2 separate regions of the Homo sapiens genome follow, and region 1 is linked to region 2. The links come from fine-mapping of genetic effects on gene expression. A gene starts in region 2. The other region holds a variant in brackets. All regions are shown on one strand. Distances are between the middles of the regions.

Region 1 (10,324 bases), 26 kb after region 2:
AATATGTCAAGGTATTGACTCAAACTATGACTCAGCTTGTTCATAGAGGTTTAGAGCTATAAGAATCCAGAAATAATATCTAGTAAGTCCCTAAAACTACTTGGAAAATACAGGGTATTTAATACATATTTTTGAATAATTCTTGTCTTTTTTTTGAAGAACAAGAAACAGCCTAGTTTGAGTTAAATTTAAATATTCTCAGAAAGTTTTAAAAATGAATACAGAAAAGTTAAATAGCTAGCACTAATACAAGTGTATAAAATAATGAATTTGCTAATCATGCTTACATTCTGTGGATATTTATCCTTAACATGCTTTTACAGTACAGAAAAATATACAGAGACACACAAATTATGTGTTTATTATGAGCATATATATGTTTTATAGGCACATAGATACCAAAAGCTCCAAATATAATCAGTCAAGCACTGCAGACATACTTAATTAATTCAAACCATTCTCAGTACTTATCAATTTTTAAACATTTGTATGGAAATACAAATAATATTAATTTTTACTTCAAAAATTTACTTCAAATCAATATTAAATTTTTAATAAAGACTTTTTGTAATACCAGCACTTTGGAAGGCTGAGGTGGGTGGATCACCTGAGGTCAGGAGTCTGAGACCAGCCTGGCCAACATGATGAAACCCTGTCTTTACTAAAAAATACAAAAATCAGCTGGGCACTGTGACAGGTGCCTGTAATCTCAGCTACGTGGGAGGCTGAGGCAGGAGAATTGCTTGAACCCAGGAGGTGGAGGTTGCAGTGAGCCGAGATTGTGCCATTGCACTCCAGCCTGTGAGACAGAGCAAGACTCTGTCTCAAAAAATAAAAAAAAAATTTAAAAAAATTAAAAAAAAAAGACTTATATGGCTGAGCACGGTGGCTCATGCCTGTAATACCAGCACTTTGGGAGGCCGAGTCAGGTGGATCACCTGAGGTCGAGTTCGAGACCAGAGTGGCCAACATGGTGAAACCCCATCTCTACTAAAAATACAAAAATTAGCCAATTGTGGTGGCGGGCACCTGTAATCCCAGCTACTTGGGAGGCTGAGGCAGGAGAATCGCTTGAACCCAGGAGCCAGAGGTTGCAATGAGCAGAAATCATGCCACTGCACTGCAGCCTGGGCAACAGCACGAGACTCTGTCGAAAAAAAAAAAAAAAAGAAAGAAAGACATTTATATCATTTCCAAAGTAGTTCATTACTCTACAACTTAAAGGACTTACATGATGTTTGGGAAATGACTAACATCAGCTATTAATTAATAAATATGTATTAAATACATTTAGAACATAAAATACATAGATAAATTTAGATTTGGGTCTTTTGCATCATTTAAAGTAATCCACTGGAAAAAATTGGCAAGTGACATGTTTAATAACCTGGAACAAATCTTTCACTTTTGCTTTTTGAAATAAAATATTTCATCTCCAGTTACACCAGCAAAGATCACTATTCTAGAGTGTTTTAACTTCACCATTGTATTTCTGATCTCAGTATAAGAGAACAACTCCCTCACTTGCTATCATCAAAATGTTGCTCTTTGGGTGTGACCTTTGACAAATGGCCTTCTCCTTTCAGTGGCATCTTCTCGGTTCAGGTCTAGTCTGTACATACAGTCTTTAAATTCCTTAAATTTACTATTTTCCTTCACTTGGAAATTAACTGACAACACAGGAGTCTAGAGTCAGCTTCAAGATTACCAATGCTATACTTTGGAAAGTTGCAGCCTTTTCTTTTCAATAACTATGACCTTGAAGTCATCAGCCCATCTAGATTGTGTAACTTATTATGAACGGTTATATTTACTATTCCATTAGAGATAGTATCAGCCTTGGCTTTCAGATACTTTCATAGTTTATTTTAGGTTAGTGGTTGGTATTTTATGGGCTTTAGAGGATAAGCTATTCTTGCCTACTAAGGACAGAGACATAAGCATAGTACAATTCAGGGAAGTCAGAACTACTGCCTTGGCTGTACCAGCTGCCACCAAAACACCAGCAAAGAGGATCTGGAAAGGCCTGCCAATAGACCATCCCCAGGAAATGGGAAATTGGAGTCAGGAAAGCATTCCGAAGTTATAAGTAGGGCTCTTTTGTGCCACACTGGTATTTCCTGAAGATTTAGGCAAATTGAAGTTACTGCTGTGGGATTTCTAGGCCACACATATTCTAATGGTGAGGAAGATCAGGGTCACCCTTGAATGACTAACACTAGACCATTGATTCATACAGATTGGAGTGAGCCCATCAATGTTTCACATGCATTGTGGTGGCTCATTTACCTCTCTTCACTGCCTCATGGATGGGCGAGGCCAGGTGCACCTCCAACTGGGCCTTGGCTCCGAACTCCAGCAGCACATTGACACATGCAGCACTGCCGCTGCAGCAAGCATTGAAGAGGGGTGTGGCTCCGTGAACTGTCACTCCATTGACCTAATGATGGGCAAAGAGAGACCCAAAGGATTTGTTATTTCATTCTCACCATCTCCAAGTATGTCTTCCTATGTATTTGCCTAGAGGAATTCCCCACGCTGGTGAATAAGTGAGGGAACTCCACATCTTTACAGTATTATGAAACCTCATGAAGTTATTGGGTGGATCGAGCGAGTTACTATATGTAAACACTTAAAACATTACATGTCACCCAGTAAGCACTCAATAAGCATTTGCAACAACAATTATTTCCATTTTCCATTTTCCATTAATATGACTCCCCTCTGAATCATGAACAAACATGGCAGGCTGTGGTCCCAAAATCCATGCTTACAAAATCCTTGGCAATTCTCCACAGATCTACTGTCTTTCTTGCCACAACTTCCTCTCTGGTCTACTATAATCCATGCAAATTACACATGCCAGCTGTTACTTCTAGAGATAGCATGACCAAGCCAAAGGGACATAGAAAATAGCCATCAACATTTTCTTAATCCAGTCTATCATTGTTGGACATTTGGGTTGGTTTCACAGGAAGGGGAACATCACACACCGGGGACTGTTGTGGGGTGGGGGGAGGGGGGAGGGATAGCATTAGGATGTAAATGACGAGTTAATGGGTGCAGCACACCAACATGGCACATGTATACATATGTAACAAACCTGCACGTTGTGCACATGTACTCTAAAACTTAAAGTATAATAAAAAATAAAAATAAAAATAAATAAATAAAATTAAAAGATTAAATTTAAAAAAAGGAAAGAAAATAGCCATCAACATGGTGTCTGCAACCATCTTTGGTACCTTGTAGGGATGTGGGAAGCACATGAGAACCAGCAGGGCTGGGAGACATCTTTGTGTATCAGCAATAGATTGGAAAGAACATCGGGAACCGCAGGAGTGGTAGGGAGCCTCTGATGCCATTGAAATATAGGACAGTCAAGTTTGTGATGTGAAACAATTTTGCTTCAACAACTAAGGATGCATGCTTGTGATAATCAGGATTCTAAATGTCCTTGCTTTGGACACAAAAAAAGACTTGTTTCCAGAGTTGCAATATAACCCGTGAAACAGGGTCTTGCTCTGCTATCCAGGCTGGAGTGCAGTGTCATGATCATAGCTCACTGCAGCCTCGAATTCCTAGGCTCAAATGATCCTCCTGCCTCAGCCTCCTGAGCAGCTGGGACTACAGGCGTGCACCACCATGACCCACAAATTTAGAAAAATTATTTGTAGACAGCGTCTAGCTATCTTGCCCAGGCTGGTCTCAAACTCCTGGGTTCAAATGACCCTCCTGCCTCAGCCTGCCAAAGGGCAGGGATTACAGGTGTGAGCCACCACACCCAGCCTAACCCCCATTAAATTGGAAAGTTAAAGATAATATGCTAAGATGGCAGAGACAGACAAGGTCAGGGGAAAATGTGTGTAAATTTATATTGCTAGGGGTTTCTATATTTTTACTAAAAAATATTTGGTAGGACTAGTTTGATTTGTGTTTTACTAAGTTTCATCCTCACCCTCAGTCTAGGAAGTTGTCTTCTTATGCGATTTCCTATAAATTTCTCTTAGTTCACGTCAACAAACATTTATTGAGCATCTACTAGGTGCTAATGTTTTGGAAACAATGATAAGACAATTGCCTCTCCTTGAGTGGGCTGAACAATTGCCTCTCCTTGAGTAGGCTGAATTCCATTAGGGAAGACAAATACAAAAAGAATTTTTTTTAATTTTTTTATTTTTTAGATGGAGTCTTGCTCTGTTGCCAGGCTGGAGTGCAGTGGTGTGATCTCGGCTCACTGCAACCTCCGCCTCCTGGGTTCAAGAGATTCTGCTGCCTTAGGCTCCCAAGAAGCTGGGACTACAGGCGCGTGCCACCATGCCTAGCTAGTTTTTGTATTTTTAGTAGAGACGGGGTTTCACCATGTTGGCCAGGATGGTCTTGATCTCTTGATCTCATGATCTACCTGCCTCAGCCTCCCAAAGTGCTGGGATTACAGGCGTGAGCCACTGTGCCTGGCCAAAAAGAAATCATTTTGAAAATATAATAAATAATTTAGATGACTATGGGAGTAGGATAAAGGAGAGGATAGACTTGGGAAAAACTTAGAAAGTAAAATTAGCAGGAGTTTTTAATTAATTAGATAGGGAGATGAAAGAAATAAGATGACTCTCAGGTTTGCAGCTTGGGAAACCAAGAGGATGTTTCTTTCACCAGGCCTCTGAAACTAGGAACCCAAGATGAGGAGCAGGTCCCAGAGGGAA[G/A]AACATGATAAGCTCAGTTACAAATGCACTGAGTTTGAGGTATTCATGGGACTGCCAATTGTGGGGGACTTTCTACTGATGGACCAACTTTCTCTTATTTCGTTTCTCATTCTGATTTAAATGTTAAATGGTGTGCTACAGTATTTATTGGCTGTTTCTTTATAAAATTGACAAAGACAAGGAAACATGTCTTATTCTTCTCTTTGTGCCCAACAAAACCTCCTCTCTGACCTGATATTGTCAGCAGTCTGCCTGTGACTCCAGTCATCTAGCTTGAAAGGAAACGGCTCTCACACAGCCTTCCTTCATCATTACCCATGAGCTGACTGAGTGGTAACTTAGAGAAGCACTACCTAATGAAAATGCATGACCACTTGGCAGGGCACGGTGGCTCACGCCTGTAATCCCAGCACTTTGGGAGGCCAAGGCGGGCGGATCACCTGAGGTCAGGAGTCTGAAACCAGCATCGCTGGTTTCACTAAAAATACAAAAATTACTGCACTAAAAATACAAAAATTAGCTGGACGTGGTGGCGGGCACCTGTAATCCCAGTTACTCAGGAGGCTGAGGCAGGGGAATCGTTCGAATCTAGGAAGTGGAGTTTGCAGTGAGCTGAGATTGTGCCACTGCACTCCAGCTTGGGCAACAGTGTTAGTGAGACTCTGTCTAAAAATAAAAAGATGGAAAAAAAAAAAACAAAAAAAGAAAATGCACGACCACAATGGCATCAGGAAAATTAGTTTTCACAAGGAAGACTTTTATATTCAGTTCTACATGTAGAAACCCGATTTCCATATAAAATGTTTTAAATTGTCATTAAGCACTTAAAAACATTGCAGCTCATAAAGTAAATAATGCAAGGACTGAGTTAAACAACAAAATTAGAAACAAAGAACATCTGGCAACTAAACACAGAAGATTTTTAGAAGTTGTGATTTTATGATTCTATTCTGATATCTGTATTATATATTGCACCTCAGTCACCCTTTGAAAAAAGTTTGGAGATAAATTTAAAATAAGATAAAGTTCAATTCTGTAGGTTTCCCCCAATGTATTATTTATTAAAAGCTCGCTCATTTTGATAATTTTGCTCAATAAAAATAGTTGTTCATTTAAGGTGTTGAATTAAGAGTGTTTTCTATTGTTCTTTAAAATCTTGTTATTAAGCCTCATACAGTGTTAGTGGGATTATAAATTAGTACAACCATTATGGGGAACAGTTTGGAGGTTCATCAGAAAACTAAAAACAGAGATACCATATGATCCAACAATCTTACTGCTGGGTATATACCCAGAAGAAAGGAAAACAGTATATCCAAGAGATATCTGCACTCCCATGTCTGATGCAGCACTGTTCACAATTGCAAAGACCTGAAAGCAACCCAAGTGTCCACCAACAGATGAATGCATAAAGAAAACATGGTACAAGGCCGGGCGCGGTGGCTCACGCCTGTAATCCCAGCACTTTGGGAGGCCGAGGCAGGTGGATCACAAGGTCAGGAGATCAAGACCATCCTGGCTAACACAGTGAAACTCTGTCTCTACTAAAAATACAAAAATTAGCCGGGCGTGGCGGCGTGTGCCTGTAGTCCCAGCTGCTGGGGAGGCTGAGGCAGGAGAATGGCGTGAACCCCGGCAGAGCTTGCAGTGAGCGGAGATTGTGCCACTGCACTCCAGCCTGGGCGACAGAGTGAGACTCCGTCTCAAAAACAAAACAAAACAAAACAAAAAAAAAACATGGTACAATAAAGATTTCTTAAGGTCAGCAACACAGTTTTAAAAGGTTCCTGTGAGTTGCCATGTCTGAATATTTACACACAGGGGGGTAAGTTGAAGAGAGAGGAGTAGCCTAAATGATGGAATACGGACATGGATAGAACCAGCCCAGCCCTTACCCACAGTGGGTAAGCCATCTGGAAGGTAAACTATCATTAAACATTAACAGATGCATCTGGCCAGACAGACCCAAGTGGGCAGGGGCAGTACTCACGTGTGCACCATTTTCCAATAAGGCTTTGGCACAGGCCACGTGACCTCCAAGGCATGCCTCGTGGAGAGAAGACACCCGGTTAATTGTCACAAGGTTCACATTGACACCCTATAATTTAGAAAGAAGAGAGTTTATTTATTTTTTACAGACTGGGGTCTCACTGTGTTGCCCAGGCTGGTCTCAAACTCCTGGCCTCAAGTGATCTTCCTGCCTCAGCATCCTGAGTAGCTGGGATTTCAAGTGCAAGCCACCAAGCCCAGCAGAAGAGAGTGAAATACTGCATTAGTGATAGCAATGAAAGCAATGTTGTTTCACATGTTTCTGACATTTTCACAGTCTGTGGGTGTAATATTAGTACCATAGAGAGAGAAGTAGAAGTTACGATCAGGGGAGCCTAAAGACAGCATGACAGCCTCACATTCATTTATCCAAAAGAATGTTAATTCTGCATTCTGGAGCAGGTAATGTACTAGGACCTGGGTCTTCAAAACTTATGACATGGGTCTCTCTTCTCCCAGAGCCTACTGGGGAGGCAGAAATGAAAGACAAAAGAGCAAGAATATTGCTATACTGGAAGCATGTCCAAAATTAGTTTGGGAGCATAGGATATCCTTGAATCTGGCTTGGGGAGTAAGAAAAACCTTGCAAATGAGGTAGTATTTAGCTAAGACTTGAAGCATAAAATGTTTCAAGCTGTGAAGACCAAGAAAGAGTATGCCATTAGGAGAGAATAGAAACTGCAAATTCAGGAAGCAACAGGAAGTTATTTCCTGTTGCTTCCTGTTGCTTCCTGTGGCAGGGCCACAGTCGGATTTCTGGAACAGAAAGAACCCACAGAAAGTAGAAGCAGGAGATGGGAGGAGACAAAGGAGGACAGTAAGCTGGAGCTAGGTCATGAAAGGCCTTGATTTCCAAACAAGGAGGGCATGTCTTAGAGGAAATGGAGCACCTATGAAGTCTGCTAGGCTGCGGAGGGTCTGGAGCTAATAGATTAGCCTTTTTAGAAGCTTACTGGTAGCAGCATGGAGGGTTGATTGCAGGAGTAGGGATGTAAGACCAAAGCAAGGAGAGCCACAGAGATGTCACTATGAGTCTAGGAACAGGCTGGCATGGGCCTGCTGTGGCTGTGAATAACAGTAGGTATGAGGTATAGATGATGGAGTGCAGACAAGTTCAGGAGGTCGAGCTGGATCTGAAACAAAACAATAACTCCCAGGCTTAAGAGTAAGTAGACTGTGCTCCTAGGATTCATGTGCTGTGGAGTAGCAGCACTGCTTCAGCCATGACTCCACTGTGTGCAGAGGTCTCTGAAGTCCTAGAGTCCGGGGCCAGCGGACTTCTCCTAACCTTCATCTCCTCACCCAGGTATGAGTGCCTCCACCCTGTCCTAACACATTCTCCCTCCCCATACTACCATGTGTCCCCTTCCTTGTCCTGGACTCCATGTGACAGATGACAAGGTCAGCCTAGCTGCTGGACAACTCTGACTTCATAACCTGATTTTAACAACTTGGCTCTTACCATTTCCCTCCCTCTGATGATCACGTTCTATCTGCAAAAGTGTTGACAAAAACAGTCAAACTATAAAATATTTGAAGAGATTTATTCTGAGCCAAATATAAGTGACCAATGGCCTGTGACAAGCTCTCAGGAGATCCAGAGAACATGTGCCCAGGGTAGTCAGGGCACAGCCTAGTTTTATACATTTTAGGGAAACATGAGACATCAATCAAATACATGTAAAATGTACATTTGTTTGGCCTGGGAAGGTTGGACAACTCAAAGTGGGGGCCTGGGGCTCCAGATTATAGACAGATTGAAAATTTTTCTGATTGGCAATTGGTTGAAAGAGTTATTATCAATAGAAATGTCTGTCTGGGTTACAATAAGGGGTTGTGGAGACAAAAGTTTTATCATGTGGATGAAGCCTCCAGGTAGCAGGCTTCAGAGAGAATAGATTGTAAATGTTTCTTATCAGACTTAAGGTCTGTGTTGATGTTAAATTCTGGTCATCTTTTCCTGAGTTCCAAAAGGGAGGAGGGTATAATGAGGCATGTTCAACCCCCCTTTCCTGTCATGGCCTGAACCAGTTTTTCAGGTTAGTTTTGGAATGCCCTGGCTGAGAGGAGGGGTACATTCAGATGGTTGGAGAGGGGGTGCTTAGAATTTTATTTTTGATTTATAAAAGGAATTAGGTCCCTGGTCTGTCCTTCCCAGCCGAGTCCTGCTTTTGATCCTATGCCTTGTAACTGACCAACTGAAAGCTTCCAAAACCCAATGCCATGACCCTGAACCCCGAACTCCTACTTACACGGCCACCATCTCCTGCCAGATCTCTGGCTGCATCCTTGCTGTGGCCAGCAGCTGTGATTTCCCAGAATTGTCCCTTCATCATAAGGCCTCTTTTTGACTCCTGAATTCTGTCTATTTTCATGTCCTGAATATGACATCATTACTCTAGATCTGTGCTACATATTTCAAACTGGGCATCTAATAAGAGTTAGAAAAAGTCTTTTCATTTTTCTTTTCCTTTTGAGAAAATAAGAAAAAACAGACTAGTCCACAAGGTGGCAGAAGTGTGCTAGAAAAAACTGTTACGGTGCAAAATCTCAGAATCCCTGAAATTGTAGAAATGTGATGCTGGAAAGGCCTGAAAGATCATCTAGAGTGGATCACCTCAATTGTGCATGAGAAAATGGAGGAGTAGAATGTTCAAATACTTTTTAAGACTGGTTGTCAGTGACAGCCAGCAGTGTAACCAAGAGCTCCTGAATCTTGGTTTAATGTTTTACTCACATTTACTCACATTAGCTTAATGTTTTACTCATATCGGTTTAATGTTTTACTCACATCGATCATATTATCTAAATGTAAAATAAAGTTTATAAAAGTAGACAAATACATTTTTTAACAGTGTATAAGAGTAAAGAAGTAGGGGTGTAAAAGAAAAAGTTGAACTTTTGTATAAAGAATGCCCCCTTACACATTTAACCATATTATTGAAGCTAATATGCTTATTAAGTATAGTTAGTGCAATGTGGGATCCTGGAACAGAAATAGGACATGAGAGGAAAAACTGGTGAAATCACAATAGTGTGCAGTTTAGTCAGTGGTATTGTATCAATGTTAACTTCGTATTTTTGACTAATGTACCATAGCTATGTAAGATGTCAATATTAAAGGAAGTTGGGTGAAGGGTACAGTGTATATGGGAACTGTCTGTATCCTTTTCAACTCTTCTTTAAAATTATACAAAAATTTAAAAAGCCTATTAAAAATATACCAATGAAAGTATTGAGGTGGGAGACTGAGAGAGAAGAGGTGGGTGGGAGACTGAGAGAGAAGAGGTGGGTGCAAGACGTTTCATTGTGCACCTTTTTAATTTTATTTATTTATTTATTTTATTGAGACAGAGTTTCACTCTTTCACCCAGGCTGGAGTGAAGTGACGCGATCTCGGTTCACTGCAACCTCCACCCCGCCAGGTTCAAACGATTTTCCTGCCTCAGCCTCCCAAGTAGCTGGGATTATAGGCGCCCACCACCACGCCTGGCTAATTTTTGTACTTTTAGTACAGATGGGGTTTCACCATGTTGCCCAGGCTGGTCTCGAACTCCTGACCTCAGGTGATC
Region 2 (10,324 bases):
CCCTTGTGACTTCTACTTCTTTGAAAACTTCTCTTCCCTTAGCACCTGTGTAATTACAACATCCAGAATCTCTTTCTGCTTCTCTGTCCAACTTACTGGTCCTACTTCATCAACTGGAGGCCTGTCCCAGGGTTCCATCCTTGGTTGACTCTCAGCTCTTAGCCATTGGACAATTTCTCCCTTCCCTAGGTTTCAACCACAGCCCCTCTGTAGGACATTCTGAGGTATCTGGCTTCTAACCTGTGATCGTTCCTAAGTCTCAGTCCCATGTCATCATACTGTGCACTGGGCATCATTGTTAGCACTATCATGTCCAAAACAGAACTCTGTATCCTCCCCTCCTCATCCTGCATCCAAGGCAACTTCCTTTCCAACTTCCCTCTTATCTAGCTTATCTGACATTACTTTGGGCTTGAGAACCTTATAATTTTGCCTGCCTTCTGTTAGTTCCAACATTTAATCAAGCAACATACGCTGATTTATCTTTCCTTTGAAATCATCGCCCTTTCTCTGTCATTTCCAAAGTTCGATCCAAATGTAAGTTTCATGGTTGGATTAGTGCAGTAGTTTTCAAAGTATGGTCCCTGACCAGTACCATCCATTTCACCTGGGAGTTTGTTATGAATGCAGATTCCTAGGCCCCCACCCCAGGCCTACGACTTCATCAAAAGCTGCATCATCTGCATTTTTTTTTTTTGAGACAGAGTCTCGCTCTGTTGCCCAGGCTGGAGTACAGTGGCATGATCTCAGCTCACTGCAACCTCCGCCCTCCCAAGTTCAAGCAATTCTCCTGCCTCGGCCTCCTAAGTAGCTGGGACTACAGGCATGTGCCAACACACCCAGCTAATTTTTTTTTTTTTTTTTGAGACAGAGTTTCACTCTTGTTGCCCAGGTTGGAGTGCAGTGGTGTGATCTCGGCTCACCACAACCTCTGCCTCCCGGGTTCAAGCGACTTTCCTGCCTCAGCCTCCCGGGTAGCTGGGATTACAGGCATGCACCACCATGCCCGGCTAATTTTGTATTTTTAGTAAAGACTGGGTTTCTCCATGTTGGTCAGGCTGGTCTGGAACTCCCAACCTCAGGTGATCCGCCTGCCTCGGCCTCCCAAAGTGCTGGGATTACAGGTGTGAGGCACTGCACCCAGTCAAATGTTTGTATTTTTAGTAGAGATGGGGTTTCACCATGTTGGATAGGCTGGTCTGGAACTCCTGACCTCAAGTGATCCGCCCACCTCAGCCTCCCAAAGTGCTGGGATTACAGGCGTGAGCCACCGTGCCCAGCCAGAAGCTGCATTATCTGTATTTCAATAAGCTCTCCAGGTGATGTAGAGGCACATGAGAATTTGAGAACCACTGGATGAATGCAACCATCTCCCACGATTCCAACACAATCTATCCCAGCTGTGGCTACCATGTTAATTGACCTACAGCCTTATTACCAGGTCTCTGTTCTAGAACCACCAATGGCTCTCAATTTCCTGCCTCATGAAGCCTGACCTCCTCCACTTAGCTCTTCAAGCTTTATCTGCCACTCCATCTCTTCAAACTTGTTCTCACTAGACTCCCTAAGACATTCACATTTTGCACTCTAGCTGTAAAAACTTGTTGACTTTACAAGCACCATGCCTTTGCGTATAACACCTGCCCACTCCCACTCACCCACCCTGACCCCACCAGGGTTGTATTAGGAACTTTAGAAATCCTGAACAGTTGGCTCACGCCTGTAATCCCAGCACTTTGGGAGGCCAAGGTGGGTGGATCACGAGGTCAGGAGATTGAGACCATCCTGGCTAACATGGTGAAACCCCGTCTCTACTAAAAATACAAAAAATTAGCCGGGCGTGGTGGCGGGCGCCTGTAGTCCCAGCTACTCAGGAGGCTGAGGCAGGAGAATGGCGTGAACCCGGGAGGCGGAGCTTGCAGTGAGCCAAGATTGTGCCACTGCACTCCAGCCTGGGCGACAGAGCGAGACTCCATCTCAAAAAAAAAAAAAAAAAAGAAAAAGAAACCCTAACAGTGAAAAGTGGCTGGTGCCTCTCTCCCATGTGGAAACAAAAATAAATACAATACTTAGCTATAAAATAACCGTGCAGAAGTCAACCAAATTACCGATTCTTTCCCATAATGATTGGTTTGCTGTTTTAAAAATATATTTATCGGCCGGGCACAGTGGCTCACACCTGTAATCCTAGCACTTTGGGAGGCCGAGGCGGGCAGACTTCCCTGAGCTCAGGAGTTGGAGACCAGCCTGGGGCAACATGGTGAAACCCCGTCTCTACTAAAATACAAAAAAAAAACACCCCAAAAAATTAGCCAGGCGTGTGCCTGTAGTCCCACCTAGTCCCTGCCTCTCCCTCCTGAGGCAGAATTGCTTGAACCCAGGAGGCCGAGGTTGCAGTGAGCCGAGATGGTGCCACTGCACTCCAGCCTGGTAACAGAGCGAGACTCCATCTAAAAAAAAAATATATATATATATATAATTATATATATAATTCCTTGTAAAAAGTGGCCGGGCGTGGTGGCTCACGCCTGTAATCCCAGCACTTTGGGAGGCCAAGGCGGGCGGATCACGAGGTCAGGAGATTGAGACCATCCTGGCTAACATGGTGAAACCCCGTCTCTACTAAAAATACAAAAATCAGCTGGGTGTGGTGGCGGACGCCTGTAATCCCAGCTACTCAGGAGGCTGAGGCAGGAAAGTCGCTTGAACACGGGAAGGTGGAGTTTGCAGTGAGCTGAGATTGCTCCACTGCATTCCAGCCTGGGTGACAGAGTGAAACTCCACTTCAAAAAAAACAAAAAAAAAAAAAAAAAAAGAAATTCTTTGTGAAAAGTGATTTTTGATGCCACTCTTGCTTTCCTAGTTCTCCAAACTCATGCTCAATACATCTGCTGATTAATCCAGTTCTGCCTTTGTGGATCTAAATCCCACTCACCATTGAGTACTCTGCTCATTTTATAAGTGAAATTGGATAAATGAATGAATGAATGAGCAGGCTAGTCTACTCAGTCAAAGGGAAGACGTTTTGTGTTTTATTTCTTCCATTTTTACCTTTTTGGTACCTGTATAGTAGATTAATAAACCCTGACTGACGGCCGGGCGTGGTGGCTCACACCTGTAATCCCAGCACTTTGGGAGGCCCAGGCGGGCAGATCACCTGAGGTCAGGAGTTCTAGACCAGCCTGGCCAACGTGGTGAAACCCCGTCTCTACTAAAAATACAAAAATTAGCCGGGTGTGGTGGCGGGCGCTTATAATCCCAGCTACTCGGGAGGCTGAGGCAGGAGAATCTCTTGAACCCGGGAGGCAGAGGTTGCAGTGAGCGGAGATCTCGCCATTGCACTCCAGCCCAGGCGACAGAATGAGACTCCGTCTCAAAAAAACAAAACAAAACAAAACACCCTGACTTCAGGGTCCCTGTTTATTGCCCCTTTGATCAACAGGTGCTGTGGACAGTATACCAGGTATATATTTTTTTCTTTTTTCTTTGATACGGAGTCTCACTCTGTCGCCAGGCTGGAGTGCTGTGGCGAGATCTAGGTGCACTGCAACCTCCGCCTCCCGGGTTCAAGTGATTCTCCTGCCTCAGCCTCCCGAGTAGCTGGGATTACAGGCACGTGCCATCACACCCAGCTAATTTTTGTATTTTAGGTAGCGACGGAATTTCATCATGTTGGCCAGGATGGTATCCTGACATCGTGATCTGCCCGCCTCGGCCTCCGAAAGTACTGGGATTACAGGCGTAAACCACCGTGCCCCGCCTATATATACAGGCCTGAACCCGGGAGGCGGAGGTTGCAGTGAGTCGAGATCGCGCCACTGCACTCCAGCCTGGGCCACAGAGCAAGACTCCGTCTCAAAAAGAAAAAAAAATTAATAAATAATAAATACAGCAATTCAGCAGGGCTGCTGCAACACCAGCTTTCCCAGCTCTGGGTGCTGGGGCTTGTCTCCGTCACAAGCCCCCAAGGATCTCAACAGGGTGAACAACAGTTGCAGAAAGTGAGCTGTTGCCTTCACCCTCACCCTGCTGCTCCCTTTGCTCTCCGAAAGTTACGAACTTTGAGTTTCCTTCCCGATAAACTCCAAGGTTTCCTCACTGATTGGTCTCAGTTTGGGAAAGGACGTGACATCAGCAAGTTTGCAGACTTGGGGCTGGAGAGTTAACCAGTATATTACTAACCAATATACTATTATTTATAAGAACCTGTGTGCAAATGCCTAAACCCATTTTTCAGAATCCTTTCAGCCAACAGGCACCTGCTGAATGCTCACCGAAGTGTGTATTTGTGGGATTCTGTACATTAGCACAGACACCACTTGACAGATGAGAACAATACCTGTAAGATGATTCTCCAATGTTTTAAGTAAAACAAAGTCTCTTTTGTCTCTTTTGAAAGTGACTCAATCAGTGCTCAATGTTTGAACATCTTTATAAACCCTGCCCCACCTAAATGCCAAACACCTAAGACTTACAAATTAAAAAGTTTTAGCATTAAAAATTTTCCTATTTATAAGTAACTTTCAAACCTCCAATTTAATAAATAATGCATTTGACCCACAAAGAATGATTCCTGGGAGCTGAAATTTTCACTGGAGAATAATTTGTGACAATTGAATTTGTCTTGTCTGTAGGATTCTGCAGAAAGAAGTATACACATTTTTGAACAGCTGTGTAAAGAATATATACCAGTGAGCTGTGGACATCTGCCCAGTAACAGCCCCATGGACACCTCACACAGAGCCACTGAAACTGCCCAACCCTCCTCTCCTAAGCACATTAGCCAACCTCCCCAGGGCTGATTCCACTGCCCCTATGACTCACCGCCCATCAATGGGTTTGAAAGAAGCCTGATGCCAGGAAAGTCCCTTGGCCCCGCGGGCTTGCTCCCATCCATGCCCCCTTGTTTGCCATCCATGATGCTCTCTCCTAAGCGAGCAAGCTCTGCGCTCCACTTCAGTTGCTCAGCAAAGTCCAAACTCCATGCTCCCCCTGCTCCTGAAAAATTCCAGTTCTGTGGCTGGCTGAGCTGCACACGTTCTGGTCAAATGGTCTGCAGCAAAGCACAGAGCAGGCAGGGTAATCTGAGTGCTACCTGTGATCAGAGAGAGGCATGCGCTCGTGTACACACACACACACACACACACACACACACGTTTTACCTAACTGGCTGGAGGCCCGCCAGAGGCCACAAGAACCCTCCAGCCCTAAGTCTGCGAAGTTGCTGATGTCACGTCCTTTCCCAAACTGAGACCAATCAGTGAGGAAGCCTTGGAGTTTATCAGGAAGGAAACTCAGTTTGTAACTTTTGAGAGTGAAGGGAGCAGGGTGGGGGTGAAGGAAACAGCTCACTTTCTGCAACTGTTGTTCACCCTGCTGAGATCCGTTTGTTACATGGTAGCTTGTTATGGAGACAAGCCCGAGCACCCAGAGCTGAGAAAGCTGGTTTTGCAGCAGCCCTGCTGAATTGCTTGCACAGTAACATGCACAGCACGCCCTGGCCATCTGTACATGTGCTTTCAATTGTGCTGGGAGTTTCTTATGGGAAATGTGTCTATATGTTACAAAAAATGTACCTTTGGAAAGAACCATTTGTTCCTTTCAGCTGCAAGAATTTCACTAAATGTCCTACCTCACCCCTCCTCCACTCATTTTAACTTCTAAATAAATAATGAACGGTTGCAATTGGAAAAATGGATTGCTAGGTGGCCTGAGATGTGGAAGAGACCTGCTATCTTTTCATTGTGAATTACTAAAATTTATTTTGTTAACGTTTTGCTGTTTTTGCTTATACAAAACATTAGGGGCCGGGCGCGGTGGCTCATGCCTGTAATCCCGGCACTTTGGGAGGCCAAGGCGGGCGGATCACGAGGTCAGGAGTTTGAGACCAGCCTGACTAACATAGTGAAACCCCGTCTCTACTAAAAATACAAAAAAATTAGCTGGGCCTGGTGGCAGGCGCCTGTAATCCCAGCTACTCGGGATGCTGAGGCAGGAGAATCGCTTGAACCCAGGAGGCAGAGGTTGCAGTGAGCCGAGATCATGCCACTGCACTCTAGCCCAGGCGACAGTGCGAGACTCCACCTCAAAAAAAAAAAAATTTGGATGTACTGTGTCCATGTCTTTTCAGATAAACCCAGTTGCCTCACACCCCTGGGTGCTACTTCAGGCTGACAGGCACCTCTAGACTCCCACCATTCCTCTCTTCCAGGTAGAAGAGGATTTTTCATCCCCATGGGGGAAGGCTCTGAGTTAAGTCTCAAGCATAGACTGGCTGTGAAGTGATTGCAGATTTGTCTTAATGCCAAAGATGAGGCCTAGATGTTTTAGATTTACGGAGTCTCAGTTAAAACATTTGGTGGCTGTTATTAACAGTTTGAGGGGTGTAATTCACGTTTTTAAAGGCATTTATATGCATACACATGTATGCACATTTATCAATTTACATTTTCCACATAAATGTACCTATATTATTCTTTTTTTTTTGAGACAGGGTCTCACTTTGTCACCTGGACTCGAGTGCCATGGTGTCATATCGGCTCACTGCAACTTTCACCTCCTGAGCTCAAGCAATTCTCCTGCCTCAGCCTCCTGAGTACCTGGGATTACAGGAGCGCACCACTGTGCCCAGCTAATTTTAGTATTTTTAGTAGAAACAGGGTTTCACCATGTTGGCCAGGCTGGCCTCAAACTCCTGATCTCACGTGATCCCCCTTCCTTGGCCTCCCAAAGTGCTAGGATTACAGGCGTGAGCCACCGCACCCGGCCCCTATATTATTCTATTATTCTATGCTTTTTACACTTATTTTGTCTGTGAGAGCTTTCCATATCAGCTTTTATAGGTATGCTCCTGTCTTTATTCACTGTTGCATAGCATTCCATATTGTGCCAGAAGTATTTAATTATGCTCCTAATGATGCAAGCAGAATGTCATTATTTCTGTTAGTACTATGAAAGGACTAAAGTTCATATTTTTGTACATGTGGCTTTGTGCACATAGGCAAATATTTCTAGAGGAGAGATTCCTAAGAGTGGAAATGCTAAGTCAAAGGCATACTTATGCACATGTAATAAATTGTATAAAACTGAAGACACACACAGGAATGAGTACAAGTAAAACCGGGGAATTGAATAAGATCAGTAGATTGTATGAATGTTGATTTCCCAGTTACAATATTGTACTATAGTTTTGCAAAAAGTCACCATTGAGGGAAACTGGGCAAAGTGCACTGGAGATCTCTATGTGATTTCTTACAACTGCATGTGAATCTGTAATGATCTCAATACAAATTGCACTTTTTGAAAAGAGGCTGCTCATTTAAAATTTGGATAAACACTACTAAACTTCCCTCTATCTCTATTTGCAGAATTAACTGAGAAGGCCATAAGCATACAAATTCTTTACCACTCCATCAGGAAAGATCTGAAGAATGATACATTTGTTTGGCAGAGAGTGAGGAATTGATTCCCAACACAGACTGGATGAGGAGTTGAACAGAAGGGCACAATGGGGAAACTGGATACTATTTCCTTTCCTTCCCAGTAAAATCTTTGTACTACAGCTTCTTTATTTACTTTTAATTAAATTCCAAGTAGATAAGCCTTTTCCATATTCAAAATTAAGTTCCAAAATGACAATAAAGAAGATTTCCAGGTTGTTTCCCTAGTACCTGGGAGGGAATTAATTCATCAGCCTTTAATCTTCTCATTTTATTTATGATGTTGATCAACACCAGTGAATAGGAGGATTGGAGATGAATTTTTAAACTGTTTAACAACAGTTCTTTACAAGGGGAGTTCATGCATTTGTGGATTTGTATGAGGATAAAGTTGAATCACATGTGTATGAGCTTTGATTATGGAGAAATTGGTTGGCTTACCAACAGCCATAAGAGAAAAGCAATCTTACCAACTTCTAGTCAGCCTTGGTGTGTGTCAGTGTGTGTGTCTGGATGTTCAGTGAAATTGGCACAGGTTAGGTTAGAAAACAGAATGATCGTTGCCTGCAGCAGATGATAAGGCCACAGTCATTCCTCACCAGGAGCAGTGTTCACACTAGCCAGGGCCTCTGCCCCACCCCTCACTTAGATGTCCAAGGCACACCTCAGGTATGGTTTAGGAGACTCTTTCCTCCCCAATGTAGCCGGCTCAAGTCCAGCTGCTAAGAGGCTGAAAACTTAAGAAGCGAGAGGTATGGTGAAAGGAAATCAACTTTATCTAAATGCTGCTGAGAGATGAAGCCAGCTGGAATTCCTGGGTGGAGTGGGGACTTGGAGAACTTTTGTGTCTAGCTAAAGAATTGTAAAAGGACCAATCAGCACTCCATAAAAACCCACCAATAGCGCTCTGTGTCTAGCTAAAGGATTGTAAACGCACCAATCAGCACTCTGTAAAAACGCACCAATCAGTGCTCTGTGTCTAGCTAAAGGATTGTAAGCGCACCAATCAGTACTCTGTAAAAATGCACCAATCAGCACTCTGTGTCTAGCTAAAGGATTGTAAATGCACCAATCAGCACTTAAAAACACGCCAATCAGCGCTCTGTGTCCAAAGGATTGTAAATGCACCAATTAGCACTCTGTAAAAACGCACCAATCGGTGCTCTGTGTCTAGCTAAAGGATTGTAAATGCACCAATCAGCACTCTGTAAAATGGACCAATCAGCGCTCTGTAAAATGGACCAATCTGCAGGATGTGGGCGGGGACAAATAAGGGAATAAAAGCTGGCCACCCCCCCAGCCAGCAGCAGCAACCTGCTCGGGTCTCCTTCCATGCTGTGGAAGCTTTGTTCTTTCACTCTCCAGAATAAATCTTGCTGCTGCTCACTCTTTGGGTCTGTGCCACCTTTAAGAGCTGTAACACTCACCACAAAGGTCCATGGTTTCATTCTTGAAGTCAGCAAGACCAAGAACCCACTGGAAGGAACCAACTCCGGACACATTACCAGTTGGAGAATGGCCTGCCTTTGAAAGACCGTTCCAACTTTTTGGGCTGAGTGAAGGGGTTTATGGAGGAAAAAGGTGTGGGAAAATGTGGGAATATCAAGGGAGGGAAGAGCTCTGTGTGTCTCTTTCCCATGGCTATCTTTACTAATCGCCAGCCCGGAAGTCCAGTTTGTGTCATCCTCACTTCTGCCCGGTAGTGGTGGGCTAACTGTTCATAACTCCCCCAAGCAGGAGGATTCTGCTGCTGGGTCTCTGTGCCTTTTTTTTTTTTTTTGCTTAAAAATTGACCCCTGGAATTTCTAAGCAAGCATGTAATTAGATAAGTGAGCACTGTTCACAAAAGTGCCTGGTGGAAAAGAGAGAAACAAAGAGTTTCAAAGTATGTTTCAACGCTGAAAGCAAGAAAGAAAAAAAAAAGTTTTAAAATGCATTTTGAGGCTGGGATGCTCAGTTACACTGAGACCTTGGGGGAGCCTTCAAAGTCACTTCCAATCAGTCAAAGTTGGTCCAGGAGCTGAAGCTTCTTCTTATTTCAGCTGGCAATTTTTCTAGCACAAAACCTTTAACACCTAAAAGGTATACATCTGCTCTGACAACGTGGAATACTCTGCTTCTACTGCTTTAGAGAGAAGTCAGTCAGTCCTACTCCGCCAAGCAGTACGATAAGACTCAAATAAGAATGTGTTTTTTCAAAAATCTGGCATTATGCAGTATTCTTGAGGAAACAATCAGGCGGATCAAAATTGAGAGATAATCACATAACAATGGGACTGGACTCTTCAAAAATGCCAATGGCATGAAAGTCAAAAGCGGGGACGGGAAGCTTTCTAGATTAAAAGAGAATAAAGAGACTTGGTAACTACGTTCGATGCATGATCCTCAAAGAGATCCTGAATGGTGGAACATGACAGAAAATATATCATTAATGCCACAAGTGTGAGAACTTAAATCTGGATATACAGGATAGTTGTGCATCAGTGTCAAACCTCCTGTGTGTGATTACTACACCACAGTTCCACAGGAGAATCTCTGTGTTCTTAGGAGATGCACACTGAACTGCTCTGTGCTGAACCATATGGGAGCAAGAGGCCAAAAGGGAAATGTATGCCTTTATGCATATTTTGCACCAAGTATAAAAAGTTAATGTAAGCTGCGCAGTCAAAACACAAGTATGTATAAAGCCTGCGTTGCCCAATCTGTTTGCATGGCATTGTCACTCCTCAAAAACCCAGCAGCCACATATCCCAGAACCAGAGGCTGATTGGAAACACTATTCTCATTGCACAATAATGCAGGGACATAAACAACAAGAGCCTGTCTTGCAGGCTATTTTGGCTATCATGGGCTTTTTGCCTTAACATTGACTTTTCAAAACAGTG

What was found.
Region 1: its variant is fine-mapped to the expression of ASB9 in whole blood (TOPMed, PIP 0.99).

Annotation. Positions count from the first base shown.
Region 1 is chrX:15,290,881-15,301,204 of GRCh38, forward strand. ASB11 (ankyrin repeat and SOCS box containing 11) reads right to left here. Exons shown (of 7, transcript NM_080873.3): 3 at 6,694-6,801; 4 at 2,290-2,440. Among named protein-coding and RNA genes, the nearest start is that of ASB11, 20 kb to the right of the region's middle. RefSeq lists an enhancer at 7,347-7,641. The variant G/A (reference allele first, on the strand shown) is at 4,704.
Region 2 is chrX:15,264,957-15,275,280 of GRCh38, forward strand. ASB9 (ankyrin repeat and SOCS box containing 9) reads right to left here and starts at 5,127. Exons shown (of 7, transcript NM_001031739.3): 1 at 4,825-5,127. The coding sequence starts at 4,918.